7 linked regions of the Homo sapiens genome follow. The protein of the gene in region 7 purifies or fractionates together with the protein of the main gene of each other region. This does not show direct contact. Each region holds a gene or a part of one and is shown on either strand. Other genes may lie near its edges. The genes, in order: SAA2, APCS, A1BG, CP, HPX, FGB and UBE2U.

Region 1 (4,766 bases), on a different chromosome or scaffold from region 7:
TTCTCTCTGGCATTGCTGTAGTCCAGGCAGGCAAGAAGGAGATTAATCATCAGGCCAGTGAGCAACAGCTCACCCTCCCATTCTCCCCGTTCCAAGGGAGGGCTCAGAGAGGAGCCCAGAAAGGCCAAGGAAGGAGGAGTGAAAACACTGACCCTGCCTGGGCACTGCCCCATTCAGACAGGCTGGGCACCCCTAGGCTGGATGAACAGCACCCAGAGGGGGAGGGGGAGGAATCACTCACTCCTACCATCCACTCAGACCCTCACACTGAGCACAGAGGCAGAGAGAGGGCAAGAAGAGGAGGGACCACAGCCTCTAACTTCTCCACAAGGAGCTCGTCTCCCTCCTGACTGTCCAAGGCAGGCAAGCTCTGCTCACCCAGCCCTAACGTCCCAGGAGCTCCAGTTACCTGATCACTTCTGCAGCCCAGGCACCCCCAGGTCCCCTTTTGGCAGCATCATAGTTCCCCCGAGCATGGAAGTATTTGTCTGAGCCGATGTAATTGGCTTCTCTCATGTCAGAGTAGGCTCTCCACATGTCCCGAGCCCCTGGAAAGGAAAGGAAAGGCAGAAGGGACATCAGGAGAACATAAAGACTCCAACAACACCTTAGAGGGGAATGAAAGAAGGACAAATCTTCCACTGACTTCAAGCTTTCAGCCTGTGATCATAGCAGCCTTGGATACCATGGGTTGAGAAGCACATTCCTTTATCCTAGTTGGCTTCTTCAAGTGCCCTGGTGAAGAGCCACTGCTATAGAATGAAGCTGCCTATGATAAGATCCAGGAGTGTATATGAATGAGGTGGTGACATGGAATACTGATGCTGAGAAAGGTGGCAGACACAGAGTACTTCTGCCCTGACTACTAAAGTATATATTCTTGCAAATGGAATACATGTCATTGTGACCTGAGTTCCAGTGACTGTTAGGAGCATAAAAGTCCCTAAACACTTTCTCAGTAGGCTGTACTGATACTGTGGGTTGCTTGAGGAAGCAATAGAGCAGCGGTTCTCCGCCGTGGTTGCACTTTCTTTTTCTTTTTTATTTTTTTAGACGGAGTCTCACTCTGTCACCCAGGCTGGAGCACACTGGAGCAATGTAACTCACTACAACTTCCGCTTCCCGGGTTCAAGTGATTTTCCTGCTTCAGCCTCCTGAGTAGCTGGGATTACAGGTGCCTGCCACCACGCCTGGCTACATTTTCATATTTTTAGTAGACACAGGGTTTCACCATGTTGGCCAGGCTGCTCCGGAACTCATGACCTCAAGTGATTCATCCACCTTGGCCTCCCAAAGTGCTGGAATTACAGGCGTGAGCCTTGGCTGCACTTTCTAATCACCCAGAGAGAAACTGAAAGTCCCAGTGCCCAGGCCACACCCCAGGCCAGTTTCTGCAGACTCTGCTGGGGAGTTGAAGGCATGGGTAGTTCAGGTGATGCCAAGGTGTGTCTGAGATTCATAACCATCAACCTCTGGGAGGTGGTCAGTGATGCGTCTACCTGGCAAGAGCCCTGACCTCAAGCACAGCCGGGCTCAAACCTCTGCCCTGCCACCTGCTGACTGGCAGTAAGTCCCTGGGCATTGGCCTCAGCTGCTCTAAGTCTCAGCTTTCTCACCTTCACAGAAGGGATGCCTGCCTCACAGAGTCATTCTGAAACTAGATGAGAAAATGCTGTGGTCCTTGTGGGGGCTTGAGGCACGTTAGTTCCCAGCTCTTGTCAAGAAGGCTGGAGAAGGAAGAATGGAAACAGAACAAACCAGGAAGGGAGCCCCTGACAGAGCGAGGCTAAAGAGCCCTGTACATTATCCAACTAGGAAATCGAAGGAGGAAGGAGAAAGAAGACAGAAGAGTCAACAGCCTTAGTCATACTCCTATGCGATTTATGCTGAGGGACATTTTATACCAATTGCAGGCCTTATTTTGCATCTTCTACTCAAAACAAACAGCTCAGGTGCTCCTGGAAAGGATGATTGTTCTTTCTCTGAGTAACTGACAACAATCCTCGACTCTCTAATCTGTTTAGCAGCTCCCCAGGCACATTGGGCAGCACAACCTAAGGCAGCGGCTCAAATCTTAAGGAAGCCCAAAAATACCCCGTGTGCGTTGTTACTGGATGCCCCGTCCCTTACGGCTCAGGAGATGTGTTTTTGATACACCTTGCAGCGGCTTCTGAAATGTGATCCATCCACTTAACACATCCTGAGAAGCTGCACTACGGGGAAAGGGGATATTCCCAGCAGCTCTGAAAGACTCGAGACAGGCAACCCAGCAAACCCTAGTTCCTGGCAGGCCTCAGCAACGCAGACACTAGCAACTCTGTGGTTCAAAAGCAGCCTTCCGAAAGCATCATTTTCCCCAGTTTATCAGGTCCAGGGCGATGTTTCTCTTCAGAAATCCTGCAAACCTTCTGAAGCCTTACCATCAAAAGCCTCGCCAAGGAACGAAAAGAAGCTTCGGCTGCTGACACTCAGGACCAAGGAGCAGAAAACCAGGCCCGTGAGAAGCTTCATGGTGCTGAAATGAAAGGAGAAGTCAGGCAGTCGCCCACAAGACTGGCACAGCTTCCCTTGGGACTTATATTCCGACGAGAGCCTGGTTATTTCCACTGGATCTTATTAGAGTCTCAGTGGCTCATCTAGGAAACCTTGCAGCAGGACCTCACTCAGAGCCAGAAGCCCTCGGTTCTGAACCCATCAGCCCTGAAGCCTGACTGCATAAGAGGATGCCAATGTGGCACTGATGGAGGAAGGCAGGAGTTACCACCAGACTGTCACTCCCTCAAGTAGCCTATAATTCCCCATAACGCATTTACCGTGTGTTCCCTCTGCCCCGCACAGAACTCAACATGGGATAAACACAAAGCAGGATCATTATTTTTTATTCTTAAAGCCTTTAGCACCTGGTATTCCCAGGTGTTCTCCCATCCAAGTACTACCAGGCCCGACCCTGCTTACCTCTCTAGATCAGAGGAGATAAGACACCTTCAGAATGGTATGGCTGTATGCCCCAGGATAACTATTTTTTTTAAAGGAAATGATAATCTTGTTGGGAAAGAGAAAACAGAGTAAGTTTTAAAAATCACTCCTTGGTGTGCTCCTCACCTGATCTGTGCTGTAGCTGAGCTGCGGGTCCCTGTCTGCCAGGGAGAGGTGGCTGCTATTTATAGTGAGCCTTGCTGGTCTCTTGGGAGGGAAGAAAAGCTGGATGTGGTCCCTGGGGAAAGTCCCTGCAGGTCATTTCCCCTACAAACTGGTCTAAGACAAGTTCCTGGATGCCGGTGGTTTCTTCATCCCGGGTCATTTATCCCAGTTGTGTAACCTATGGGAACAAGAGAGGTTTGCTGTGCCTTGGCAATGGACAGGGTGCTAGATCAGCTCTGCTCCTCAGCATTGGGGGAAGTGCAGCTGCAGAGATGCCAGTGGGAGCCCCGTGATGGCGGCACCTGGGCTGCTGGAAGGTGTGGAGTGAGGGCAGCTCTTCAGCCAGCTCCTGACTATACCGGTCATTTCCTCAGGATGGGCCCTGCTGGGCCACATGGCAGATGACCCTGACTGAAATCCCTGTGAGTTCATGTCTAAAGCTTTAAGCTTTAAAACGGACAGCCTACCCCTGCCACATCTCATGTGTGCCCTGGAAGCCTCCTTCCACCCCTCTGGATGTCCTGATATTTCTCAGCACAGAAAATCTCTGCTCCGCTGGCTTAGCCAATTTGGAAATGCTTTTTCTAAGTTGGCTCCTGAGCCAAGGACAATGTAGAGAGGGGGACTTTCTGCTGCCCCAGCCTAGTCCTGGAGCCCCACCTTGGGAGAATGAGAGTGTGGTGCGTTAAATAGGCAGCCCAGCTGGGGACGTGCCCAGCATCCAGGCAGGGAAGGGTGGGAGAGCTCTTGGTCTGCTGTATTATCACGGAGGGGTGCAGGGGGCATGCAGATCACTCTCTCATGAGAACATCAACAGGGTCAGATTAGCTCTGCAGAGGCTTATGGAGGAGCATGGTGGCCAGAGATGGGTCAGTACCAGAGCCCAGGGGGGCTGAGGCCAGGACATGCAGAGAGGCTGGTGGACATAGCAGCAACTCTGGTTTCTTCTTCTCCAGTCCATGTTCATACCCTGAGGGCTAGGCATTTGTAATAACAAACAAACAAGCAATTTAGAAATGGGCCAGGCATGGTGGCATGTGCCTATAGTCCCAGCTACTTGGGAGGCCAAGGCAGGAGGCCTGCTTGAACCCAGAAATTTGAGGCCAGCCTGGGCAACACAGCAAGATTATCTTAAAAAATTTTTTTTAATCTCTGAGAAATGGGTAGGGCCAGGAAGTAAAGGATGGCCAAATACTCCATAAGCAGCAAATGCGTGGCTCCAATGTGAACAATGATATTATAGACTCTGTTCTGAGACCTATGCATTGACACCTCCACCTCCCCCACTACATCTTGCCACCTTAAAACCACTGAGAGTGGTACCTGCTGGAATGGGTCCACACACACAGTCACACATATTTTAGGCAGGGTAGTTGACATCCCCAGGGAAAAAGAGCTCACAGAGAGAGGCTGAATGTTTCCAACTGGGTAGCAGTAATAGTACATCATGCTGTACATGGTACAGCACAGATCAGGTGAAAATAATAGCACATCGTGATTAACCAGGGCTTATTCCAGGGAGTCAAGAAGAGTTTCATATCAGAAAAATCTATCTTTGTAATTCACTATACCAGTAATCAAAGAAAAGGATTGTACATTTATTTTACTAGATGCAGAAAATGAAT
Region 2 (3,496 bases), about 95 Mb from region 7:
CCTAAATAAGCTTGAGATTAATGTGGAAGAATGGCTGGAATTCCTAGAAACAGGAAAAGAAAATAAGAGAGAAATTCAAGACAGTATGAAGGCACTGAATAGAAGTAATGAAATCAAGAAAGCCAGGAAGGTATAAAGAACAACAATTAGAGGTGTTTGACTGGAGAATAGGATTAGATTCTGAGATAATAGCCAGGTTAGAGCCAGATTGCAAATGGCATTGGCTTCCAAGCAAATGGTCTGTATTTAATTCAGGAGTCAATAGATGCATAATCCCAACTTTATCACTAACCTATACTGTGCAACAAGCCAGATAAGGCTTCACAACCTGGGATTCCATTTAGAGAAAAAAAGTAGAGAATGGAAACTCCCCAGGGATGAGAATAGGAAGGATACTTTGAACAATGATAGAGAAAGTGTATTCTTGGTGGCAGTGATTGTGTCATTGAAAAGGCTGATTAGGTCTGTGGTGAGCTAACAGAAGAGAGAGTGAACAAGAGGCTAAACAGTAGGATGAGAAACAAGACACCATATAATTCAGGGATGAGAGAGAAAGAAATAATGTGGCTAGAAAGAAGAACTTCAGTTTGATATCTCAGAGGCAGAGAAGGTTTGAGTGGTGGTTAATAAACTGTACAGAGAGAGAATGAAGGAGACATAGAAAGAATGAAGGTGGAGATCTCTGGGGCTGTGAGAGAGCCAGTGACCACTGAATCCCCAGCACCTAGTGTAGTAACTGAGAGCTAGTGAATAAATGTATTAGTGGGGTCATCACCAAAGATGGATTAGATATACACTCAATGACCAAGGACTCAAAGAAGAGGAGAGAAAAACTTGGGGAGATGCTGACATCTCTGCAGGTAGCATGAAGTAACCAGAAAACAAGTCGTAATGAGAAATGGAAAGATCTAGGATAAGGAAGCACCATGATATGCAAACGAAAAAAAAGCACTGAGTAGAAGTAGCAGAAAAATACTAAGCTTCATGGGGACAGAAAGTTTATTCTCCAAGTCCCTCTTTCCCCTTAGCTTTGCCTGGATGTATTACTTGATGTTGAATTAGTCAAAGTTGAAGGCACTTTTTAGGGTCTTCAGCAGAAAGCAGAATCCTAGAATATCCTACAAATACAAGACAACTTGAGAACTATAAAAGAAAGAAAAGGCCTTGTTCCCATAGCCCACAAGAGGGCTGAGCTCAGCGATACACTCTGTGTGGCTCAGGAGCTTCTGGCAGAGCACAGAGCCATCAGAGAGGGGGCCCAGAGAGCAGAGAGAGGCTCTGCTGACATGGCCAGCCCAGCGCCTCATCCCATCCATAACCCTGCTGCCCTGCAATGACTCTCTTCCCAGCAATAAAATCTGGGTCACAGGAGTTGGAGCTCTAGCCATCACTTGTCTCTAATAAATAACTCCCATTGATTTTCCAGCTCAGGGCTCACCACTCCTTCACCGTAAGCGCCAGGAGGCAGACCTGGAAAATCACTCACATATTATTGGTGCTCTTCCTCCCCCATCCTCACCCAAGGTGCATATAAACCCTGAATAACCTGAAGTCTAAGGGCATGAATATCAGACGCTAGGGGGACAGCCACTGTGTTGTCTGCTACCCTCATCCTGGTCACTGCTTCTGCTATAACAGCCCTAGGCCAGGAATATGAACAAGCCGCTGCTTTGGATCTCTGTCCTCACCAGCCTCCTGGAAGCCTTTGCTCACACAGGTAAGGAGGTGAAGGAATGGTCAAGAATCATAAAGTGAGAAAATAGGTTGAAGCTGAGATATCTTTTCCCTGCATTTATACTGAAGGTCATTATCTTTCTTTCTTTATCCCGCAGACCTCAGTGGGAAGGTGTTTGTATTTCCTAGAGAATCTGTTACTGATCATGTAAACTTGATCACACCGCTGGAGAAGCCTCTACAGAACTTTACCTTGTGTTTTCGAGCCTATAGTGATCTCTCTCGTGCCTACAGCCTCTTCTCCTACAATACCCAAGGCAGGGATAATGAGCTACTAGTTTATAAAGAAAGAGTTGGAGAGTATAGTCTATACATTGGAAGACACAAAGTTACATCCAAAGTTATCGAAAAGTTCCCGGCTCCAGTGCACATCTGTGTGAGCTGGGAGTCCTCATCAGGTATTGCTGAATTTTGGATCAATGGGACACCTTTGGTGAAAAAGGGTCTGCGACAGGGTTACTTTGTAGAAGCTCAGCCCAAGATTGTCCTGGGGCAGGAACAGGATTCCTATGGGGGCAAGTTTGATAGGAGCCAGTCCTTTGTGGGAGAGATTGGGGATTTGTACATGTGGGACTCTGTGCTGCCCCCAGAAAATATCCTGTCTGCCTATCAGGGTACCCCTCTCCCTGCCAATATCCTGGACTGGCAGGCTCTGAACTATGAAATCAGAGGATATGTCATCATCAAACCCTTGGTGTGGGTCTGAGGTCTTGACTCAACGAGAGCACTTGAAAATGAAATGACTGTCTAAGAGATCTGGTCAAAGCAACTGGATACTAGATCTTACATCTGCAGCTCTTTCTTCTTTGAATTTCCTATCTGTATGTCTGCCTAATTAAAAAAATATATATTGTATTATGCTACCTGCATTTGTTTAGTGCTTGTCATAGTCCCATATCTTTATCTTATGTCTACTACTTATCTATCTACTAATTGGTGTTTCATTGGTAATTGGTGTTTCATTATCCTGAAAACTCCAATTGCCAAGTACGGGGAGGAAAACCTGTAAGTAACTAGAAAGATATATCACAAAGCCAGAGCACTCAATGAGCACAACAGTGGCAATACTTAAAAGCTACTAACAATCATTTTAATGACGATTCAAAATATGTGTGGAATTGTAATCACAATTCTCCTATTTGTTTTTCCAGCTACAAATCGATCAAAAAGGGGTCTGAGGTTGCATCAGGTAGACAACTATAATGATATAAGTAAGCAATAGTTGAGAACCTGACAGCAAGTAATAAGACAGGAAGAATAAAACTAGAAGAAGTCAGAATGAAAACCAAAAAAGTATGAGACTGGGATCATTTTGTATGAAGACAAACATAACTTTATGTCTCAAAAACCTCAGTAGGACTGTACAATGCTTGATTTTCATAATGTTCTCTTGATGTCATCAAAAAATATTATACTCTGAATATTGCTCACATGAATATGCTGTCTAAAATTCTTCCATGGATTCACACTTCTTACAGGACATGATTTAAACCTCTAAATATGACATTGCCCTCTATAACCTGGTCCCAGTTACTCTCTCTGAAATGTACACAGAGAGTATACACAGAATACTCTCTGAAATGGACTTTCCATGTACATTTCAGATACAACTCTTAGCAGAGCAAGCCACATCCTAACTATCACACTGAAAAATAATTGTCAGATGCTATTACTAGTAGTTATTTTTATGGTTATGAAAAGCATGGAACACAGTGCCTGGCACATCGTCAACAGATATAAGTTGCATTCCCAGAGAAGCAAG
Region 3 (3,675 bases), on a different chromosome or scaffold from region 7:
CCGGGAGAGGCCCTCCTGGAGGTGGGCACAGCCCAGGCAAACATCAGCAGACGGAACCAGCACCCGGGACCCAGGGAAACGTCACCTGCCACCAGGAGCTCCACAGGGTCGCTGAGCTCCGATTCGAAGGTGTGGGGCACCCAGGAGCGGTAGCGGCACCTGTAGTTGCCGGCGTGCTGGGGCCCCACGAAGATCAGCTCGAGGTTCGCCGCGGCCCCGGGGGTGCGGACCGTCTTCACGGCCTTCGTCTCGCCCTCGCGCAGCAGCTCGAAGGTGACGTCGGGGATGGGTCCCTCGCAGCGCAGGACGGCATCTCGGCCCGCCAGGACCGCCCCACTCCACGTCGCCCGGAGCTGAGGCCTGGGAGGGGGTCCTGGGCGGAGCGGGCGGGTGGTCGGGCCAGGCCACGCCCCAGGCCACGCCCCAGGCCACACCCCAGGCCACACCCCAGGCCGCGCCCGCGCCTGCGCCTCAGCCCCGGCTTCATCTTCCCTGTCTTGTTCCTGGGCGCAGAGGGCTCCTCCGGCGCCGCCGAGCTGCGCCCGCTGCCTTCACACCCCGGACATCCGCGCCACACGTGAGTGTCCCCGCACCCCTCCCCCAGGACCGTGGAAGTCCCAGATTCGGGCCTGCTCTGGGGCTTCTGGGGTCCCCAGCCTCGGTCACTCTGACGGGTGAAGGGAAGAAGAAATGATGGAGAAAACGGTGCTCCTTCATGGAGGGACCAAAAAAGGACATACAATCTATGTCAATAGATGAGGGTTTTCCCTCCATAAGTTTAACTTTAAAAGTGTATTTAAGGTGCCGGGCGCAGTGGCTCACACCTGTAATCTCAGCACTTTGAGAGGCCGAGGCAGGCGGATTGCCTGAGCTCAGGAGTTCCAGACCAGCCTGGGTAACACGGTGAAACCCCGTCTCTACTAAAATACAAAAAATTAGCCGGGCGTGGCAGCGTGCGCCTGTAATCCCAGCTACTCGGGAGGTGGAGGCAGGAAAATTGCTTGAACCTGGGAGGCAGAGGTTTCAGTGAGCCAAGATTGCGCCACTGCACTCCAGCCCGGGTGACAGAGTGACACTCCGTCTCAAAAACAAACAAACAAAACAAAACTGTAAGGAATCAAATGTTACAAAATCCTGGAAGATTTTGGTAATGCTGTTGATAATTTCAGGGAAATTAATGAAGTACATGTAAGTGCTTGATTTAAATGTGTATTTTATTCAATAGTTTGAGTATCTTGCCATGGAAGATACTAGCCCAGCCTAGCAGAAAAGTGCAATATGTATAATATACTTTCGCATTTTAAAAGTTATATTCCCTATCCATTTTGAAATGCTAGCCAAACTACATGAAGTTATTTGCAATTAATTGTAAGCTAATCAGGAATTTTGAAAGCTTGATTGGATTAACAAACTATAATGTTGAAATTTGGTAAAATCATAATGTTAATTTTTACTGTGAAACGTTTTCTTGTAAGATAGATATACACATCCTAGTTTAATTTTGTGTCTTAGTGTGGATTTACAAATTTACTACAGTTATTCTGAGCCCAGGAACCCAATCAGATTTCAGGCCAGTTTGATACTGGCTGTTCTTAATTCTAACAGGAGAGTAGGACATCATACTAAATGTTATGTCAGTGGGACTGTGTTGTCTTTGGAGCTTAGTAAATTAATCATTTTCTTCAGACTTTAAGGAGAGTGATAAATAAAATTTGGAGTCATAGGATATAGATGTACAATTTAAAGATTAAACATTTTTTTTTTTTTTGAGATGGAGTTTTGCTCTTGTTGCCCAGGCTGGAATGCAGTGGCATGACCTGGACTCACTGCAAACTCCACCTCCCGGGTTAAAGCAATTCTCCTGCCTCAGCCTCCCAAGTGGCTGGGATTACAGGCATGTGCCACCACAGCTGGCTAATTTTGTATTTTTAGTAGAGACAGGGTTTCTCCATGTTGGCCAGGCTGCTCTTGAACTCCTGATTTTGTGATCCACCCGCCTTGGCCTCCCAAAGTGCTGTGATTACAGGCGTGAGCCACCTTGCCTGGCCAAGATTAAACATTTTTCATCAATTGTGGATGGTGGCTTATAACACTGCAAGAATAGGCTGGGCATGGTGACTCACAAGTGTAATCCCAGCACTTTGGGAGGCAGAGGCGGGCAGATCACAAGGTCAGGAGGTCAAGACCAGCCCAGCCAACATAGCAAAACCCGGTCTCTACTAAAAATACGAAAATTAGGTGGGCATGGTGGCATGCGCCTCTAATACCAGCTACTCAGGAGGCTGAGGCAGGAGAACTGCCTGAACCCAGAAGGCGAAAGTTGCAGTGAGCTGAGACTGCACCACTGCACTCCGGCCTGCAAGAATAAAAGTAAGTTATCCAAAAAAAAAACAAAAAGGAGAAGAAAAGGGAGGAATGAAGGAGAGAGATGGGGTTGGGGGGCAGAGATGAGAGAGAGAGAAAGAAGAAAAAAGAAGAAAGAAAAGAGAGAAAGAAGGAAGGAAGAAAGAAAGAAGGAAAGAGAAAGAAAGAAAGAGGAAGGAAGGCAGGAAAGAAAAGAAAGAAAGTGAAAGAAAAGAGAAAACGGTGCTCCCAGCAAAGGGTACGACCTCAAGATCTGGAGGTCAGACCTGTGCCCTCACGCTCTGCTGGGCTCTGAGTCCTGGAGACGTCGATGAGGAAATCAGAGGGACAAACAGAGCTGGGGACGGCGGGGATGGGGAGAAGGACACATCAGCCGTGCGCCTGCGGGACCGGGGCCGGGGCGGGGGGTCCAGTATGACGACTGACATGGCCAGTAATAAAACAAGGCAGCCACAGAGCTGCAGGGATCTGAACAAGAAAACCTGGGGCCAGCCTCCCTGCTGCCGACCACCACGCTACACGTGACCTACGGGCTTGCGTCCGTGGGAAATAAGCCGAAATTCCAGGCGTCCCCAGACCCTCGACCACCGATCGCCTGCTCCCCGCCGGGGTAGGCGATGGGGGCTGAACCAAGGCCCAGAGCGCCGCCGTCGGACGCCCAAGGAAAGAGGGGAAAGACAGGAGGCCCCGAGGGGCACTGAACCCGCGCCCGCCCTCGCTGGTGCCCCGCCAGCTCACCGTCCACGTGCAGCTCCAAGCGCTCGCTGGGCGCGGAGCCCCCGAAAGGCGGCTTCAGGTCCACGTAGACGCAGCTGTAGTTGGCGGAGTCAGCCACGGAAATGTTGTGCAGCTCGAAGAGCGCCTCGGTCCCAGCGGGGCTCTGGAAACGGTGCACGCGGCGCCCGCCCCTGTCCTCGCGCACCAGGGCGAAGCGCGCGCCCTCCAGGGGCGCCAGGCACCGCAGCCGCAAGGCCCTGCCGGACTCCGGCTCCGGGGAGAACTCCGGCGCGGGCAGCGTCTCTGCGGAGCAGCACACGGGCTGACCCGGGCGCCCAGCGGCTGGCTCGGCCCTAACGCGTGGTCTGGCCTCGCGCTCTTTGCCTTGGCTGAGTCTTCTGCCCGCAATGACCTGGCCAGCTTCCTCCCTCGCCTCCTCCGGGCCCGCCCCACCTTTGCATCCCAGTCCTTGGATATCTCACACGCACCCTTTCACTGTTTCTTAGTAATTTGTTTGTCTACAGACACAGACGGGAAGCGGGGACGGGGACATGTTTTGTGCATGGCTTGATGCCTGGTGCACGATGCCGCTCA
Region 4 (4,863 bases), on a different chromosome or scaffold from region 7:
GACCATTAGGGGAAAAGCAGCTTCTTGCAAGGCACAGGGTATGGCCGGTGGCATCTGAGCAAGATTTTAGTCCTTCGTCAGTCCTCTCAGTGGACATGACGGCACAATTGTTCAAGGCAGTCCTAGAAGGAGGCCTTGGGGCATCCTGGGCAACATGATTCAGTTTTCTGTACCAAGCCATTTAGTTAAGATTATTACCAGCTGGTGAGAGAAGCTCCTCCACTGTCTGCCTTAACATAGGTCATTTCAATTAACCTGAGATTTTCAGATGAGGAAACTGAAGCTGGGCTGAAGTATCTTACTTGAGGTCATTTGGTAGCATCAGATTTTTCCCTAGCACTCCTTATTCTCCTTCTCTGCTTTATTTTTCTCCATAGCATTCACCACTAATATTGTGTATTTCATTTTTCATTTTTATATTTTCAGTTTCCCCAAGTAGAATGTAAGTTGCATGATGGTAGGTGTTTTGTTCTCTGCGGTATTCCCAGTGAGTAGAACAGAACTTGGCACAGACTGCTGTATTCCCAGTGAGTAGAACAGAACTTGGCTCATTCAATAATATTTCCTAAATGAAGGAATTGTTCAAATATCGCATGCTTTCTTCTATACCAATCTATTTCAACAAGTGGCCTTCAGCAAATACACAACGTTTTGAGGTATTTGAGAGAAAAAAAATTATACTAACACAAAGTGTCAACTGTTATCAGGATTTTCTTCAGCTAAAAAAAAAAGCCATTTCATACTTTTAGACATATACTTCCTGACTAAAAACAGGGTTTTAAGAAAAAGTCTTCCACCTTAAAATTCATATCCACTTCAAAGAGAAAAATTTCAGTCTAATGATAAACTGGGGTACTTTCTATTTACTAAGACTAATCTTTGCCTCTGAAGACAGGTTTAGTTATGGTTTGTTTATTTGATGATTAAAACAAAGTTATTAGCCCCTGTTAGGCTCTGCTAGTTATTTGCATATAGCAATACAGAATGATCTGGTAAAGTTTTTATGCAGATTTGGTCCAAGCTCATAAAACAGATAAATTCTTCCAAATTAAATTCTTATTTTTGTTTACTTAAATTTGGCATGCTAGATATCATGTTTCATATCATAAAGCTGCAATTAATCATTTGTTAGACTTTTAGAAATAGTCATGCACCACATAATAATGTTTGAGTAAATGACAAACTGCATATGTGATGGTGGTCCCATAAGATTATAATAACATATTTTTACTGTACATTTTCTATGTTTGCATATGTATAGATACAGAAATATCATTGTGTTACAATTGTCTATAGCATTCAGCATAGTTATAGACTGTACAGGTTTGTAGCCTAGGAGCAATAGGTATACCATATAGCCTACCTAGATGTATAGTAGGCTATATCATATAAGTCTGTGTAAGTACACTCTGTGATAGTCACACAATGACAAAATAGCCTAACAATGCATTTCTCAGAACGTATCCCTGTCATTAAGAATGACTGTAGTAAAAAGCTACATGTTTTGATTCATTTTACATAATTCTTATCCTGATTTACTAAAAGTGCACTGTTTGCAGGACACTGTGCTGTGACATATTGTCAGAGGAACAAAGGGAGCATTTAGACACGTTCTCTGCCCTCCTGGAATTTACACAATGAATGGAAAAAGGCACAGAGTTATGCACACCCTAATGCCTCCAACAATAACTGTTGACTTTTTATTTTCAGTCAGAGAAGCCTGGCAACCAAGAACTGTTTTTTTGGTGGTTTACGAGAACTTAACTGAATTGGAAAATATTTGCTTTAATGAAACAATTTACTCTTGTGCAACACTAAATTGTGTCAATCAAGCAAATAAGGAAGAAAGTCTTATTTATAAAATTGCCTGCTCCTGATTTTACTTCATTTCTTCTCAGGCTCCAAGAAGGGGAAAAAAATGAAGATTTTGATACTTGGTATTTTTCTGTTTTTATGTAGTACCCCAGCCTGGGCGAAAGAAAAGCATTATTACATTGGAATTATTGAAACGACTTGGGATTATGCCTCTGACCATGGGGAAAAGAAACTTATTTCTGTTGACACGTAAGTCACTATTTTTATTGTTTATAGACCAAAATTTTAAGTTATTTTTAAAGGATAGAGCCAATAAGATGAAATATTTTTAAAATTTCTTATATACAGAAACTGCAAAATGTGGGCTTGAAACCCAAGACACTTGAATCAATCTCCTTTATATTCCTGTATATTTTTTATTTGGTGGACTACCCTGCTTCTTTCCTGTTGTTCCTGGGGATCTGTGTTCACATCTTACTACCTCCCATGGTCGTAACTGCATCTCCGATTAGGAATCTGTCTTTTTATGTGTTTATGCAGAAGTTCTTTCATTTAAACAATTACTGTATACAATGTTATGTTTATTGCACCATTTAATGGTTATTCATGATAGGCATAAAATTTTTTTATATCTTTCAAAACATCACTTATAGAAATAAAATACAATTTTAGCAAATAAGATCCTGCCTGATATTTATTGAGAGACTCCAGACAGTTAAGTAGGTTAATCTTTCACAGCTTCAGGGTCCTAATTTGTAAAATGAGGATAATAAGCATAGCTCATAGGGTTATTTAAAGAGCGGGTGCATGTAAAGCTCTTAGTACAATGCTTGGCACATATGTGCATAAAAAAATGTCAGGTACTTATTAGGATGGTCCTCAAAAAGCTCCATGTAACTTAAATGTCTTCATTTTTCAGTTGGAAAATCCCCTTATTGAAAGCAATATTCACTACACAGTAAAACAAAAAGTTTAGTTCTCCTTGAAGTTTTTTGTACAGAAGTTTATCTATACTGAGGTCTTCACTTTTAATGATGTTAATTAAACATTAACCACCAAATGGGAACTTGGAATTCAAAATCAATATTCACTACATTAAAATGTATTTCAGTGGTAATAAAACACAAACAAGCCCAATGACCATCAGCTGCCAAGATTATATCTTTAAAAAACAGCTAAATAAGGATGCCGAAGTTTGTAATTATTGAATCTTATTGATGAGTATATACTATTTTCTTTAACATTATGTAAAGTTGAAATTTTTCACCATAAAAATAAATACATAACAGATACTAATATCCAATTATTATATTATGAATTTAATAATATACAATAAAGAAAGTTTCTGACCTGAAGATAAGTGGTTGTAAATAAAACTAATACATCTTGTAATTATTTCTTTTTTAACCTGGTTTTAAGGTGGTATTATCTTCTAAGGAATATGACATATTTTTACAGCTTCACCAGAAACATTATTTTGCATGGATTCAGTATTTTCTTGATTAAATATAATATAAATTATATGTGGTTTTTATTTCCAAGGAAAAAGTCAGACACATTAAAAAAATAAAAATACTATCCTTCTCTATGCCCCCACTCACCACCACTCTGCCATTGTTCGTGATCAAAAATCAAATCAGCTTTATCAGGCATAAACTAAGTGCAAGACATTGCCCTGAATATGCTTCAAAAAAAAATCTTTAATTCTAAAAATCAGGGAGTAGAAGAGTGAAGGAGTTTGTTTAGAATTTGGTGAATGGGGGCGGAGGAAATTCCTTTGTTTTTAATTACTCCTGTGGCCTGTCTGTGCCAGGGAAGCTACCCAATGAGTATAAGCCTGTTTACCCCATTGTGACTATATTAGTCTCTTCTTATGCTGCTAATAGAGACATACTCAAGACTGAGTAATTTATAAAGAAAAAGAGGTTTAATGGACTCACAGTTCCACATGACTGGGGAGGCCTCACAATCATGGTGGAAGGCAAAGGAGGAGCAAAGGCATGTCTTACATTGCAAACTTTCCCATACCTTCCTGTCATCTGAGCCCTCCAAGTCTCTAGGAAGTTCCAAACTTTCCCACATCTTGCTATCTTCTTCTGAGCCCTCCAAACTATTCCAGCCTCTGCCTGCTACCCAATTCCAAAGTCACTTTCACATTTTTGGGTACCTTTACAGTAGTGCCCCACTCCAGGTACCAATTTACTGTATTAGTCTGTTCTTACACTGCTAATAAAGACATACTCAAGACTGGGTAATTTATAAAGAAAAAGAGGTTTAATGAACTTACAGTTCCACATGGCTGGGAAGGCCTCACAATCATGGCAGAAGGCAAAGGAGGAGCAAAGGCACGTCTTACATGGCAGCAGCCAAGAAAGAGCTTGTGCAGGGGAACTCTCATTTATAAAACCATCAGATCTCATGAGACTTATTCACTACCATGAGAACAATATGGGGGAAACCACATCCATGATTCAGTTACCTCCACCTGGCCCCCTCCCTTGACATGTGGGGATTATTACAATTCAAGGTGAGATTTGGGTGGGGACACAGCCAAACCATATCAGTTACTTAAAAAGTATACTTAATAGAGATACTTAAGGCTCCTTAAAAGGAAAAATGGAGCATCTTCTAGTTGCAAAGTCCACCTCTCTTTTTGTTATTGTCCTGTGACTTTAACATCTCCTCTGGCTTCAACAATATGCTACAGTTTTGCAAACTCTAGGTGGGACTGCTTTCTCTGTGATTTTTTTCCCCCATATATCTTACCAGTGAATTTTGAATACAGCTTCAGCAATTTTGCCAATACTATGCTAAACTTTTTGCATAGATGTGTGCAGATAGCAACCTTTTGGTCCCTTCTTTGTCCCAGATTTGCAGCATGTTTAGCCCAGTCAGTGAAGGATGATGGAGTATCACAAGACATGGTTGGCACTTCTTATCGTATGATGACTAAAAAGGAGTGGAAATAAATGGGCTGAAGAATAAGATGTGAAAGAGTGTAATATGAATTTTAGGTAAAGAATCGAGTTTAAGCTGAATGTTGATCTT
Region 5 (4,270 bases), on a different chromosome or scaffold from region 7:
CCAAGATGAATTTCCTGGAATCCCATCCCCACTGGATGCAGCTGTGGAATGTCACCGTGGAGAATGTCAAGCTGAAGGCGTCCTCTTCTTCCAAGGTCAGTCCAGGCTGGAATCCAAGAACCTGGAGTAGTGGTGGGTTGGTAGTGATGCCAGTAGTGATGGTGATAGTGGTAGTGATGGTGGTGGTGGAGCCACTATGTGGCTTTTTAAGGAAGGGAAATAGAGAAGCCACGTATGGTCTAGAGGTCACGTGAGGGAAGGAGAGGAAGTCATTCTGGTGAAGGCAACTGTGTGTAATTCTGTGTGAATAGTCCCTCATTGTTCCCCATGACCCTTAGGACAAATCTACCCTCTTTAGTCTTACATACAAGTCTCTCCATGGCCAAATCCCTATTGGCCCTTCAGCTTTGACTTTTATTATACTTTTACCTTAACACTAAGCTCCAGAAACCCTATGCTATTCTCTGTACACTCAGTTTGCTCCATGCTTTGGAATCTTTCCTCTCTCTGGGGTTCCATCTCTCCTTGTGTGCCTTTTAATTCCTACTTCAGATTTCACTTTAAGTATCATCTTCCCTGGGAAGTTTTCCCAGACTCTCCCCACTGCCTTTGCTGAGCTGATCCTGTGTGTTTTGCTGCTGAATTTTGGTGTATGATCACCCTCCTTTAGCCATCTCTCTGATGGCTGTGAGCTCCATGTGGTCAGTACCATTATCTGGCCCATCCTGGGACCCAGAGAAAGCACAAAGGAGGGCGTAACCCGGTCTCACCAAATGCCTGTTGATTGATTGGACAAAGGTGACCGCGAGTGGTTCTGGGACTTGGCTACGGGAACCATGAAGGAGCGTTCCTGGCCAGCTGTTGGGAACTGCTCCTCTGCCCTGAGATGGCTGGGCCGCTACTACTGCTTCCAGGGTAACCAATTCCTGCGCTTCGACCCTGTCAGGGGAGAGGTGCCTCCCAGGTACCCGCGGGATGTCCGAGACTACTTCATGCCCTGCCCTGGCAGAGGTGAGAAAGCCCTAGCACTTGAGACCTGTCAGAATTCATCCACTTTCCCTGAGCTTGTGGATCTCACGTGTCCTAGCTCTCACTTTAACTCCGTGTTGCGACACCTTGGCCCTTAATCTAGCCCCATTTCCATTCTGGATTTTCCCATTGCCCTCATATGGGGAAACCCACACCCCACTAACCCCAGCCATCTCTTCCACCTTGGACCTCACTCTGACCTCTGGCCTCCTTCTGTGTTCTCCTCACCCATTTCTCTCTCCAGGCCATGGACACAGGAATGGGACTGGCCATGGGAACAGTACCCACCATGGCCCTGAGTATATGCGCTGTAGCCCACATCTAGTCTTGTCTGCACTGACGTCTGACAACCATGGTGCCACCTATGCCTTCAGTGGTGAGAGATGCCCCCAACTCCCCCAATGTGCTCTCACATCTCTTTTACTTGTATCTCCCATCCTTGACACATTTCTCCATTGTCATCACTGTGTCACTTATTTTGTCCCCTCTGTCCCCATCCTTCTGCATGCCCTTCTGCATCCCTCATCTCTGAGGCATATTTCTCAATCTTGTCTGTCACGGCCCAAGCCCCTAACTTCATCTACCTGTCTACCATCTACTCCCATGGCTGTGCCCCCTGTGGACCTCTCTGGGCCCCTATGACTCCTTGTGTTCTCCTTGCTCAATGCCCTGCTGAGCCCTCTGGCTCTCCCTTGCTCCCTGGACCTCTATGTGTCTCTGTACCTCCTTGCCTCCCTTTGTTCTTGCATATCTTTCTGAGTCCTCTGGCTCCCCCTGATTTATCCTCAGAACTCCATCTTGTTTCAGGTTCCTGGTTCCTATGTCCAGACCCCTGGGCATAGCACTGCCTGGGGATGAGATGTTCTCATTGCTGAGAACCAGCTGAGAAGTGTTGGGTACTTTAGACCTTTAGAGGCTGGCTTCACTAGCCTCTGGAGGTTTCTCCTCTGAGTAGCCAATGGAGATACCCCTCCCTTGACCCGTGGCATCAATTGGTAAAAGCCATCTAATAATACCTAGGGCTGTTCTGAGTTCAGTCAGGCAGTAAATAGTCATGCTGCACAGTTGAGAATATCCCCAAGAGGAGTGAGCAACCACATCACATCCAACCTGAGATATATGTATAATTAGGACAGTGGTAAGAATATAAAATCGTGAAAATATTTTTTTCACACAAAATTTTTTTGGCTCCTGACCCTTGGACAAATTTGACCAGTTATGACTATCAAGTTCTGTTGAAAAATACATCACCACATGGAGAGCAAATCTCCACAGCAGGATTGCACACTATAATAAGAACATACAGCTAAGATGAAACACACACCTGTAGTGAAAATACAACATTAAACTGAGAACATACGCCATAGTAAGAACACATAAGTATCAAGAGAACACACAGCCATGGTGGGAGCCCATTGGGAGGACACACAGACAAAGTGAAATGCAGAAAGAGAGAGAGAGTGAGTGAGAGATTGTGAAAACAGGGCCACAGGAAACACACAGAAATAGAGAGAGACACCAAGCCATCTAGAGATCACAGAACTTCAAGGCCATGTGGCCATAATGAGAATGCTACTGAACTCCTAAATGAAAAATGTCATGTATGTTCCATAGCTGTTGAGAGAGCCCACAGCATGGAGAGAACACCTTATATTAAAAATACCCAGGCCGGGCGTGGTGAGTCACGCCTGTAATCCTAGCACTTTGGGAGGCTGAGGCAGGTGGATTGCTTGAGCGGCTTGAGCCTAGGAGTTTGAGACCAGCCTGGGCAACATGGCAAAACCTCATCTCTACAAAAAATATAAAAATTAGTCGGGTGTGGTAGTGCGTTCCTATAGTCCCATCTACTTCAGAGGCTGAGCCCGGAAGGTCGAGGCTTCAGTGAGCCGTGATCGTGCTACTGCACTCCAGCCTGGGTGACAGAGTGAGACCATGTCTCAAAAAAAACAAAAACAAAAAACAAAACAAAACAAACAAACAAACAAAAAACCCATATATATATATATATACCTAGCTGAGGTGAGAATGCACTATTTTGGTAAAATCACCAACATGACCCAGCTACAGCATGGGGCAGTCCCTCCCCTCTCACTGGTAAATTTTTCTTTCTCTGACTCACAGTTTTGTTGTTGTTGTTGCTGTTGTTTGAGATGGAGTCTCACTCTGTCACCCAGGCTGGAGTGCAATGGCGCAATCTTGGTTCACTGCAACCTCTGCCTCCTGGGTTCAAGCGATCCTCCTGCCTCAGCCTCCCGTATAGCTGGGACTACAGGCGCATACCACCATGCCTGGCTAATTTTTGTATTTTTTTTTGGGTTACAATGTACTATTTATTAATTTAATTTTTGTATTTTTAGTAGAGATAGGGTTTCACCATGTTGGCCAGGCTGGTCTCGAACTCCTGACCTCAGGTGATCCGCCTGCCTCGGCCTCCCAAAGTGCTAGGATTACAGGCATGAGCAACCACGCCTGGCCCCTCATAGGTTTTTATCTATTCTCTTTGCTTCTTCACAACTTTGGCTTGCACGTGGACCATCATGTTCTCTCCACTTTCTCACTACTTCATGATCTTTCAGTCTCAGTTCCAACTGATACCTCCCTCAGTTGCTCTTTTTTCCTAGTAAGATTTCCAGAGAGGGAATCTGAATGGCCCAGTCCATATTTTCAGACCACACCACATTAAAGTGGTTGATTGCCAGCCTATGTATTGGCTACATTAATGGGTTGGGAACTCATCATTTACTTCATTGCACAAAGCAGCATAGCTCTGGTTCTCAAAATAGGGCCCCTGGGCCAGGTGTGGTGGCTCATGCCTATAATCCCAACACTGTGGGAGGCCGAGGGGGGCAGATCACTTGAGTCCAGGAGTTCTAGACCAGCCTGGGCAACATGGTGAAATCTCATCTCTACTAAAAATACAAAAAATTAGCCAGGTGTGGTGGCATGCACCAGTAGTCCCAGCTGTTCAGGAGGCTGAGGTGGGAGGATTGCTCGAGTGTGGGAGGCAGAGATTGCAGTGAACCGTGACTGTGCCTCTGCAATCCAGCCTGGGTGACAGATTGAGACCCTGTCTCAAAAAACAAATAAATAAAATAAAATAAATATGGTTCCTGAGCAGGGTAATTTCAGTGGGAAACCTCCCAGGGGAGGTGGATATGTCAGTCACCGCTGTATACTCAGTACACGGCTAATAAGAGAACTTGTGGTAGCAGCAAGAACACTAGGTATTTACTCAACAAAT
Region 6 (4,270 bases), on a different chromosome or scaffold from region 7:
AAAGAAAAACAAAATAAAATCTCACCAAAAATAAAATTTTGGGAAACTAAAAACTGCCTTTCTTCCCTTATCTTTAGCTTCCACATTTTTGTCAGGAAACTCCTCTTAACTGCCTAAAACAGGCTTCCAACAATGAATGTTTTTTAATTAAAAAAAATCCCATTTCAAATAGAATGATTTTATTTTGCATGCCTGTTCGTTACCTGGTAGGCCACAGTAATTCTTCCCATCTGTGTTGGTTGCAACATTTCCAAATCCCTGTTTATATGGATCCCATTTCCTGCCAAAGTCAACACTACCGTCTTGACGGTTCTGAATCACTGTCCATCCTTTGGTTGACAGAAACAAAAAGAGCATATATTAACCAACAGCAAATAATGTCACTTTGAAAATAATATCTGAATCCCCTGTCCATTCCATTTAGTATATATTTGGTGCTCTAAAATAGACACAATAAGGAAATAAATATGAGAGGTAAACTTGTAAAATCTTTGGAAACTGCAAGTGCTTTATCTTACCCCAAATTGTGAATTATAGATATTTTATAACTTTTTAAATATCAGGTTGAATTCCACATCAAATTACTCTTTGTCAGCTATGTTAGATGTTAGAGCTAAGTCTTGTTTCCTGGCTTTTTAATTAATTTTTTTTTTTGAGACAGGATCTCACTATCCTCTGTTGCCCAGGCTACAGTTCAGTAGCATGATCAAGACTCCAGGTTGTGGGCTCAGGTGATCTCCCATCTCAGCCTCCTGGATAGCTGGGACTACAGGCACATACTACCAACACAGCTGATTTTTTTTTTTTTTTGGTATTTTTTTTTTTTTTGTAGAGTTAGGGTCTCATTATGTTGCCCAGGCTAGTTTCAAACTCCTAGGCTCAAGCTATCAGCCCACTTTGGCCTCCCAAGGTGCTGGAATTACAGGTATGAGCCACCACACCTGGCCTTGTTTCCTGGCATTTTACGGTATCCAAATAATTACAGATCAACAGGTCAACAACTGTCGAAAGCTTACCTCCATTTTCTGTATTCATGTCACAGTATACTCTATACGGTTTGACAGAACTGTCAGGTTGAATGAGATACATTTCAGATGTTTCACCTCCTTTCCTGATAATTTCCTCACATTCTGCAAATGTAAGACAACATTATGTTCAGGGGTTTATGACATAATTACTTTGTATTTAGTCACCAATTCTTTAAAATAACATTACATAAGTTACTAAGGAGTGTGTTATTATAGACCTTTGAAAATAATATAACAAATATTAGATTTTCATTTTACTTTAGTAAGTCCAACCCAGTTTTGAGGACGTTTATCTGCTAAGAGGATGAACAAAGCTCTTCTCCACCTTTTGTGTCCTGGAATATCCATGAGCTCCCAGAACACACAAAATGGAGAAACTTCTACATCTATCTGTGGTTCTGCCATCTGTTCAAGCCAGTACGCAGATGCACACATCAGCCACCCCTGGGACTACCTGTGCCCCATCCTGCTCATCAAAACCAGCAAATGCACCAGGCCAGTCCAAAACACAACTGGCTAAGGATATTTTTATGATGTACTGTAATGTCATTATGATCTGTTGGGAAAATCCACTTAGCATTTTTGTTGTTGTTGTTGTTCTCTTATTTTTGGTGTGTGAGTTCTTCTGGAACTCTCTAAAAATATGTTTATGAATCAGTTACCTTTGCCAGACACCACAGGAATATTGCAACTGACAGTGCATGGGGTGCGACAATATTCCATTTGAGCTGAGACATCAGATTCTAACTTTTGTATTTTGCTTCTCAGGTTTTCCAGGATTGAACGAAGCACACGAAGGTTAGTTGGGATATTGCTATTCACAGTCTCATCTATATATAATTGGTGCTTTTCCAGTTCTGAGGAGTACTCATTGACTACATTTTCATTATCTGGAAAAATGAAATTATGTAGAAATAGTTAGCATTTTTGCCTCATAAAACTAATGTATTTAACTATACAATTTTGATTTTCTGAGAATAAACTATTAAACACTGAGCTATCACCAAGCAGTTATGATATATAGTCATATTTAGTGGAAATGATTTGGCGCATGACATATACAAATTAACATAAATCCTAACCACCATACTAGTAATTTACCATAGGTATACGCTAAAGATTGTGTCCAGTAATAAATGAAATAGGTTGTTTATTTCTTTGGTGAGGGAAAAGAGGAGAAAGCAGTATTGGGGTCTTCCATCTGAGAAGTTCAATCTTACAGAGTGGATATGCTTGATTTATTTATCCATTTCACATAAGTATAGCAGAACCTTGAAATTTATAAGATGTCATGATTCCTTTGATTTCTTTGAAAAATTTCCAACTGTGGGTATGCTACTCACTGAGATGCCTGTGCCAGGCTCACGCACTAGCTGTTTCCTGACCACCAAGTCAACAGCACTCAACATTCTGACCTCAAGATTCACAGGTTAGGTGTCATTATCCACAACACAATTGAATATATTATGGATAACTCTCTCATTCAAAACCTCAAATGTTAAAACTATAAATGCTAGGGGTTTTTTTCCACTCTGTAAATATTATCTTCTGAGTCACAAGTTTCTTGTATACTTAAAATAAGGAGTCATAGTAGAATTTTTCATAGAAAATCACACTTGCTGATGTCAGACTGGGAATAAGAGCTGAATAGTGCTTATCTGGCAAGTTGCAGGGGAAGGTGCCCAAAAGCGTATGAATGCTATTCACTAACCCAGAAATGTTAATCTTCTCACAACCATGCATTCTCGTGGCAGTCTAACGGTTCCAATTTTATAGCTGAAAATCGAATGGAAAGCACAAGGATATCTACCTTTTACTTGCTTCTGCCTCTTTTGCCACAGGTCTTTCAGCAAATACATGTACTGAAAGGAAGAAGAGGAGGTCTGGGAAACAGCTTCCACATTGTTATTTAACTCATCAACACTATTTCTGATTGGCCTTTCCTGTTGTAGCAAAGCCTCTTGCAACTGACATCCTGTAGGACACAACACCCCCTAAAAACAAAGAAAATAGCAGGCATTAGATGAAGGATTTGGGTCATGGACATTTGTTAAAATAGCACATAGGAAAATTCAGCGATACGATTAGCCAACATAAAAATTTATTATTTGGTTTTCTGTAAGACCAGAAATTCGAAAGTCATCATCATACTCTCATAGAGATTTAAAATATTACTTACCCCAGAAAAAATATAATTGGGCTATGAAAATTTTACCAACTAAACAAAGGCAGTGGCAAAATACAAATGGAAAGGTGGCACCCACATATCCTAATTTGAAATTTTGGGCCCAGACCAAAGAAAACAAGAAAGAAAGCCTAAACCAAAGGCCCAATATGTTTATGTTTTGAATTTTATTTCCAAAATAAACAAACAAAATAACAGTGATGGTAATGTGGGTCAGTGAAACATTAGCAGACTGCCATGACTACAGGCTTTCTCTGCATGAGAGAGCCACCACTGCAAGAAACATCAGTGCACCCACCAGGTCTGGGTCAGCGTGAAGACAGCCTCCAGCATCAGGGGCTTTTCTTTCTACTTTCTTTTGAGTGGCAGCTGCTTTGGCTGGACGAGCCCGATAGCCACCTCCACTGATGGGCGGTGGGGCAGGCCTCAGGCTGGGAGCCTCTTCTCTCTTCTTGTCAAGGGGTCGATGACCACGGGCACTGAAGAAACCCTACAAGGAATGAGGCAGAAATATAATACAGAGTGTTATAGAAGATTTGGAATGTAACTATTCCAACACCCTCATTTTATAATTTAGGTTATCACAAGCTTGATAATTTGCTTAAGATCCATCAACTGGCTGGTTGGTGATAGTGAATCTGTAGGTTGCTTACTGTTCAGTAACAGTAGAAAGACCAACTGCACAAAAAAGCTATGATGCAGTGTAGTTTTTAAAGAGAGGCCTTAGGATAAAGCTGTATCAGATTATGAATAGTAATGACCTCATATTCCTAAAACATACATTGGAACTTACGAAATTGTAAAGAATCTATACTGTCAAGAAGAATGAATATTCTCAAGCCACTTGGATTGTTAGATTCCTATGATTATTGTTAATCATTTCCCTACTTTCATTTTTGTGAATTGGTGATTAGACTCCTATATAAACATATTTAAGAGACATTAAAGACTTATTAAAGGTTGATTCTACTTGGAATTTATTTGTAATAAGACAATCTTTGACCCTCATAATGTACTCTGGAGCTCGGCTACTTGTAGGTCTTGACCGTAGGGTTGA
Region 7 (4,270 bases):
GACAAGAGCAAAACTCCATCTCAGAAGAAAAAAGCGAGATCATGTAGTTACATTTAATTTTAATTCAACTAGAAAGAATTCAAAATTTTCCATGTTCTTTCTGAAAACAATATTTTAAAAAGATATTATAAGATGTTTCTAAATTAAAAACAAACATTTAATTATGATGAAAAACATAAAGAGTTTAAATAAATAGTCCTTTTGGTAAATAAATCGACATAAATTGTATAAAGAAAAACTTACCTGATACATTTACGTGGGTCTTTAGGTAACTCCTGGCTGTCATCTTTCACTATAAAGAAAAAATATGAAAGGATTCTGGTTTACTTGGAGATTGAATATATGGCTTTATGTGCACTATTTCCAAAGCCTCAATAAAATGGTAATAAAGGAATAAAAATAAGATATAAAATCTCAAGGAGAGCAAAAGAAAGATGACAAGAAAATTTTTCAAGATAGAAAGCAGATGTCAAGTGGTAACTGTCTTAGCAGGCCATAGAAATTTGAAAAAAAAAACTGCTTGATGAGAGGAGACCAACGAAAAGCAAATGGATTCGCACTTCAGAACCTGTGAAACAGTTCAGGAATTGAATGTGCCAGATACCTCTGGAAGGAGGGGTAAGAGGGAGAGCACAGACAAAAAACTTATACCCTCATCTTGTGCAATCACATGATGACCACTGCTCACGCAAGAAGGAAGATATTTAACCTCTGGAAAAACTGGGCCAGAGAGACTCAGGACTGGAGGACAGTAGAAACAAAACAGGATGGAGTAAGAAACTGAAAATGGAATAAATCATATCGAACAGACAAGATTCCTGATTCTCTCCCCTCGTCCAGCTGTCAGAGTATTAGCAGTGCTCTCTCTCTCTCTTGCTTGCACTTGCTCTCTCTCTCTCTCTCTCTCTCCACAAGCCTGGCAGATTCCTCTCAGGAGAAATAGTTAAGTCTAATGAAATGGCCAGGTTCTCACTGAATAATTCTACAATGAAATAAAACTGTCAACAAGCCCAGCCTGTATTCAGAACTTCCAGTCTTTTTAATAGTCCATTCATCATATGTCCATCATAAGAATGGATAGTCAAAGATCACTAGACATTTGAGCAAGGTCAATACCATAAAAGAGAACAATCCTAACCACAAAAAAAGAGAAAAATAGGAAACAGAAACATTTTTCTCAAAATCTTCCAGAATATACAACGAACAAAGAGATGGATAATAGGAGAAATTTGGTTTTAAAAAATTAGAGGATTGGCTGCACGCAGTGGCTCATGCCTGTAATCCCAGCACTTTGGGAGGCCAAGGCAGGCAGATTATGAGGTCAGGAGATCGAGACCATCCTGGTTAACATGGTGAAACCTCATCTCTACTAAAAAAATACAAAAAAATTAGCCAGGTGTGGTGGCGGGCGCCTGTAGTCCCAGCTACTTGGGAGGCTGAGGCAGGAGAATGGCGTGAACCCAGGAGGTGGAGCTTGCAGTGAGCCCAGATTGCCGCACCACTGCACTCCAGCCTGGCAGCCTGGGAGACAGAGTGAGACTCCGTCTAAAAAAAAAAAAAAAAATTAGAGGATCAGATCAATAGACCCAACATTCAAATCAGAGCAGATCTAGAAGAGTCAATAGGGAAAATGAAGAGAGAAGAAATTATAAAAGATATCACATAAGAAAGTTTTCCAGAACTGAATGATTAGAGATTGAGATTTCAATAGCTTATCAAATGTCCTATGTAATGTGGAGGCAGGGAAGGGGAGGATACACAAAGAAATATTATCAAAAATTTCAAATCACTGGGAATAAAAAGAAGGTTTAAAAAGCTTCCAGAAAAAAAAAGAATAAATCACATGTGAAAAATTGGACATCGGAATGAAATTAGACTTCTCAAGAGCAACACTAGAAACTAAAATGTAGTAAAGTATTTACGATTTGGAAAGAAAACTATTTCCAAACTAAAATTTAACCAAACTATGAGCATATGACAGTAACGTAATTACATTTTTAGGCATGCAAAGTTATAAAAGGTTTAGCTCCCAGGTACTAGGAAGCTCCTAGAAGATGTACTCCAACAAAACAAAGGAGCAAAACCAACCACAAGGAAAATGGGGATTGAGCAGCAAGCAGGAGCTCCAACCCAGCAGGCACCAAAAAGGCCATCCCAGCACACCTGCAAGAGAACTGCCAATTCAGAAATGGAGAGGAAGGATAGAGTGCCACAGGAAAGAGGGCTCCCAAAACAAAACAGACTCGATGCTGACTGAATACCTAGTAGCTGTTTTATAGCTTTGTCAGAAAGTTTAGAAGAAGAAAAGATAGTACACACATAAAAAACAAAGGAATGTAAAATCAGACCTTTTGTACAAGAAAAGAAAGATAATCATTTATGGTTTATCTGTGGCAAGTATTTATAAAGTCATATTAATGTAACCAAATCATATTAGGAGGATGGGGGAGAGGAAATGTGGGTAGCAATAGTAGTATAAAAGCAAAATCTTTGTATTTTATAAGATGAAGTCTATAAATAATATCTAAAACCGAAAAGCCTAGAAATATTAGTATAGAATCAACTTAGAAATGTGGTGGTAAATGCCAGAGGAAACAGCTAAATGTGTTGAAAGCTATTGTTGCCTCTGGCAGGCAGCACTCAGGGATAGAGGACATATTTCATTAAAAACTGATTCCTATTATTTGTCCTCTAAAACTATCAACATATATTTCTTTGATAGAAAATAAATATTTAACATTTCTCGTTAAAACTAGCAACTTAGAAACTTTGCCGAAAAGTTACTGGACTATCTGGTATAATGAAATACAAACAGGAAAAAAGAGGTACGTAACTCGAGCAAATAGATCCACACTCTACCCTGCTGTTAAACTCAGTTTTTTAGTATCTTATGACATTTTTAAGTAACAGAATATCTGTAACAAAACTGTAATCATCAACAACAAAACTGGTTCTGAATGATGGTGCTAAAAAAGCTCATGTTCTTGAACAAGTAAGCAATGCTACTGGACTAAATTTTGTGTTCCCCCGACACCCACAAAGTATATTTCTCAGGGGAAGGGGTATACTTACACCTAACCAAAGAAGTATACTCACTTTAAAAAGAAACGGCAACCTGGAATCCTATGAGACACCACCTGCTTCAATTGTAGAGACAATTTGCTTTAAAATTGCTCTATTATTAAAAGGATTTTTTTAAACCCAGTGAACAAACTGGGAACTTGAATTGGAGAAGAATCAAATGTCTGTCACAACATTTTCTTAATCACAAGCAGAATATGATGTATTTGTAGAATTATCAGGTTTTTAAAAAGTATATCACACAAATTAGTATTACAATCTCCCTAATATTTCTATATTCTCCTTTATTCTAGTATTATGACTCAATGTCAATTATAGCTTATTTAGATGAGCATCTGAAATGTATTAGATGATCCTCCTTTTTTATCAAAAACTATAGGAATATACTTGGCTAAGAAAAAATAATTACCTCAGGCTTAGCTACCATCACTCAGCTTTACTCTTTTTATACTCTTGTATTTTTCTTCAACCAAAGGTTTTAAAAATGACACAAAACTTACATTTTAAAAAATCAAAGCAACTATGACAAACAGAAGATAAATATTACTTGATAATATAACTACATAGAAATCAACATTCACAAGGATGAACTGAAAAAAGGGGCAGATAATTGCTCATATGAAACCTATGAAAGCTCATAACAAATTAGAAAGTAAGTAGCAATACTCAGAATCTATGAGGCAAACAGTTGTTATACATTGTCTCCAGACCTTCCTCCTCTGAGTTTTCATAAACTAGTTGAACAATAGGTTGGAAGGTATTGAAAAGGCCCCCTTATCCAATTCTTGGCGCCAGAGCTTTTTATCAAAGAAGCTCTTTGATAACATCTCTGAAAAATGGTCATTTAGCTCTATCAAATAAACACTAGATACAAAGAATACCTTTAGTAATAGAGAGTTTACTAACTGCCAGCCTGGCCTTGTCCATTCTTTTAAGCAACTTGAATTATTTCAAACAATTCTTCCTCATGTTTGGCCAACTGGGACCTGGATGGACTTTACCATTAAGAATGGCACAACTATAGAGTCATTTGCTTTTAGGAAAGATCAGCTGGGCACCCAACTGGCTAGATAATCGTTTGTTCAAACTGGTACACTGCAAGTGAAAGGAGGTACTGGGAATAATTATACCAGGACTTTCCCAGGCAGTCTGGGGTATGTGAGTCCTCTAAGAAAGGAAAAGGGGCCAG

What was found.
Region 1: the proteins of UBE2U (region 7) and SAA2 purify together in Homo sapiens (affinity purification with mass spectrometry; one large-scale study listed by BioGRID and IntAct). This does not show direct contact.
Region 2: the proteins of UBE2U (region 7) and APCS purify together in Homo sapiens (affinity purification with mass spectrometry; one large-scale study listed by BioGRID and IntAct). This does not show direct contact.
Region 3: the proteins of UBE2U (region 7) and A1BG purify together in Homo sapiens (affinity purification with mass spectrometry; one large-scale study listed by BioGRID and IntAct). This does not show direct contact.
Region 4: the proteins of UBE2U (region 7) and CP purify together in Homo sapiens (affinity purification with mass spectrometry; one large-scale study listed by BioGRID and IntAct). This does not show direct contact.
Region 5: the proteins of UBE2U (region 7) and HPX purify together in Homo sapiens (affinity purification with mass spectrometry; one large-scale study listed by BioGRID and IntAct). This does not show direct contact.
Region 6: the proteins of UBE2U (region 7) and FGB purify together in Homo sapiens (affinity purification with mass spectrometry; one large-scale study listed by BioGRID and IntAct). This does not show direct contact.

The regions. Positions count from the first base shown.
Region 1 is NC_000011.10:18,245,501-18,250,266, forward strand, and holds the start of SAA2 (serum amyloid A-2 protein isoform a preproprotein), read right to left. Parts: upstream 3,169-4,766; 5' UTR 3,103-3,168; intron 3,017-3,102; exon of another isoform or gene 2,956-3,016; intron 2,516-2,955; 5' UTR 2,512-2,515; coding exon 2,421-2,511; intron 549-2,420; coding exon 410-548; intron 16-409; coding exon 1-15. Other genes in the region: SAA2-SAA4 protein precursor, read right to left, coding at 410-548, 2,421-2,511.
Region 2 is NC_000001.11:159,586,269-159,589,764, forward strand, and holds APCS (serum amyloid P-component precursor), read left to right. Parts: upstream 1-1,557; 5' UTR 1,558-1,653; coding exon 1,654-1,717; intron 1,718-1,832; coding exon 1,833-2,440; 3' UTR 2,441-2,597; downstream 2,598-3,496. UniProt on the Homo sapiens protein: Can interact with DNA and histones and may scavenge nuclear material released from damaged circulating cells. May also function as a calcium-dependent lectin.
Region 3 is NC_000019.10:58,347,268-58,350,942, forward strand, and holds part of A1BG (alpha-1B-glycoprotein precursor), read right to left. Parts: intron 3,385-3,675; coding exon 3,103-3,384; intron 374-3,102; coding exon 86-373; intron 1-85.
Region 4 is NC_000003.12:149,218,848-149,223,710, reverse strand, and holds the start of CP (ceruloplasmin precursor), read left to right. Parts: upstream 1-1,881; 5' UTR 1,882-1,918; coding exon 1,919-2,064; intron 2,065-4,863. UniProt on the Homo sapiens protein: Multifunctional blue, copper-binding (6-7 atoms per molecule) glycoprotein. It has ferroxidase activity oxidizing Fe(2+) to Fe(3+) without releasing radical oxygen species. It is involved in iron transport across the cell membrane.
Region 5 is NC_000011.10:6,434,181-6,438,450, reverse strand, and holds part of HPX (hemopexin precursor), read left to right. Parts: coding exon 1-95; intron 96-798; coding exon 799-1,011; intron 1,012-1,273; coding exon 1,274-1,405; intron 1,406-4,270. UniProt on the Homo sapiens protein: Binds heme and transports it to the liver for breakdown and iron recovery, after which the free hemopexin returns to the circulation.
Region 6 is NC_000004.12:154,565,241-154,569,510, reverse strand, and holds part of FGB (fibrinogen beta chain isoform 1 preproprotein), read right to left. Parts: intron 3,704-4,270; coding exon 3,512-3,703; intron 3,023-3,511; coding exon 2,839-3,022; intron 1,919-2,838; coding exon 1,691-1,918; intron 1,131-1,690; coding exon 1,017-1,130; intron 330-1,016; coding exon 204-329; intron 1-203. UniProt on the Homo sapiens protein: Cleaved by the protease thrombin to yield monomers which, together with fibrinogen alpha (FGA) and fibrinogen gamma (FGG), polymerize to form an insoluble fibrin matrix. Fibrin has a major function in hemostasis as one of the primary components of blood clots.
Region 7 is NC_000001.11:64,216,881-64,221,150, reverse strand, and holds part of UBE2U (ubiquitin-conjugating enzyme E2 U), read right to left. Parts: intron 3,141-4,270; exon of another isoform or gene 3,098-3,140; coding exon of another isoform or gene 3,097-3,097; intron 293-3,096; coding exon 244-292; intron 1-243. UniProt on the Homo sapiens protein: Catalyzes the covalent attachment of ubiquitin to other proteins.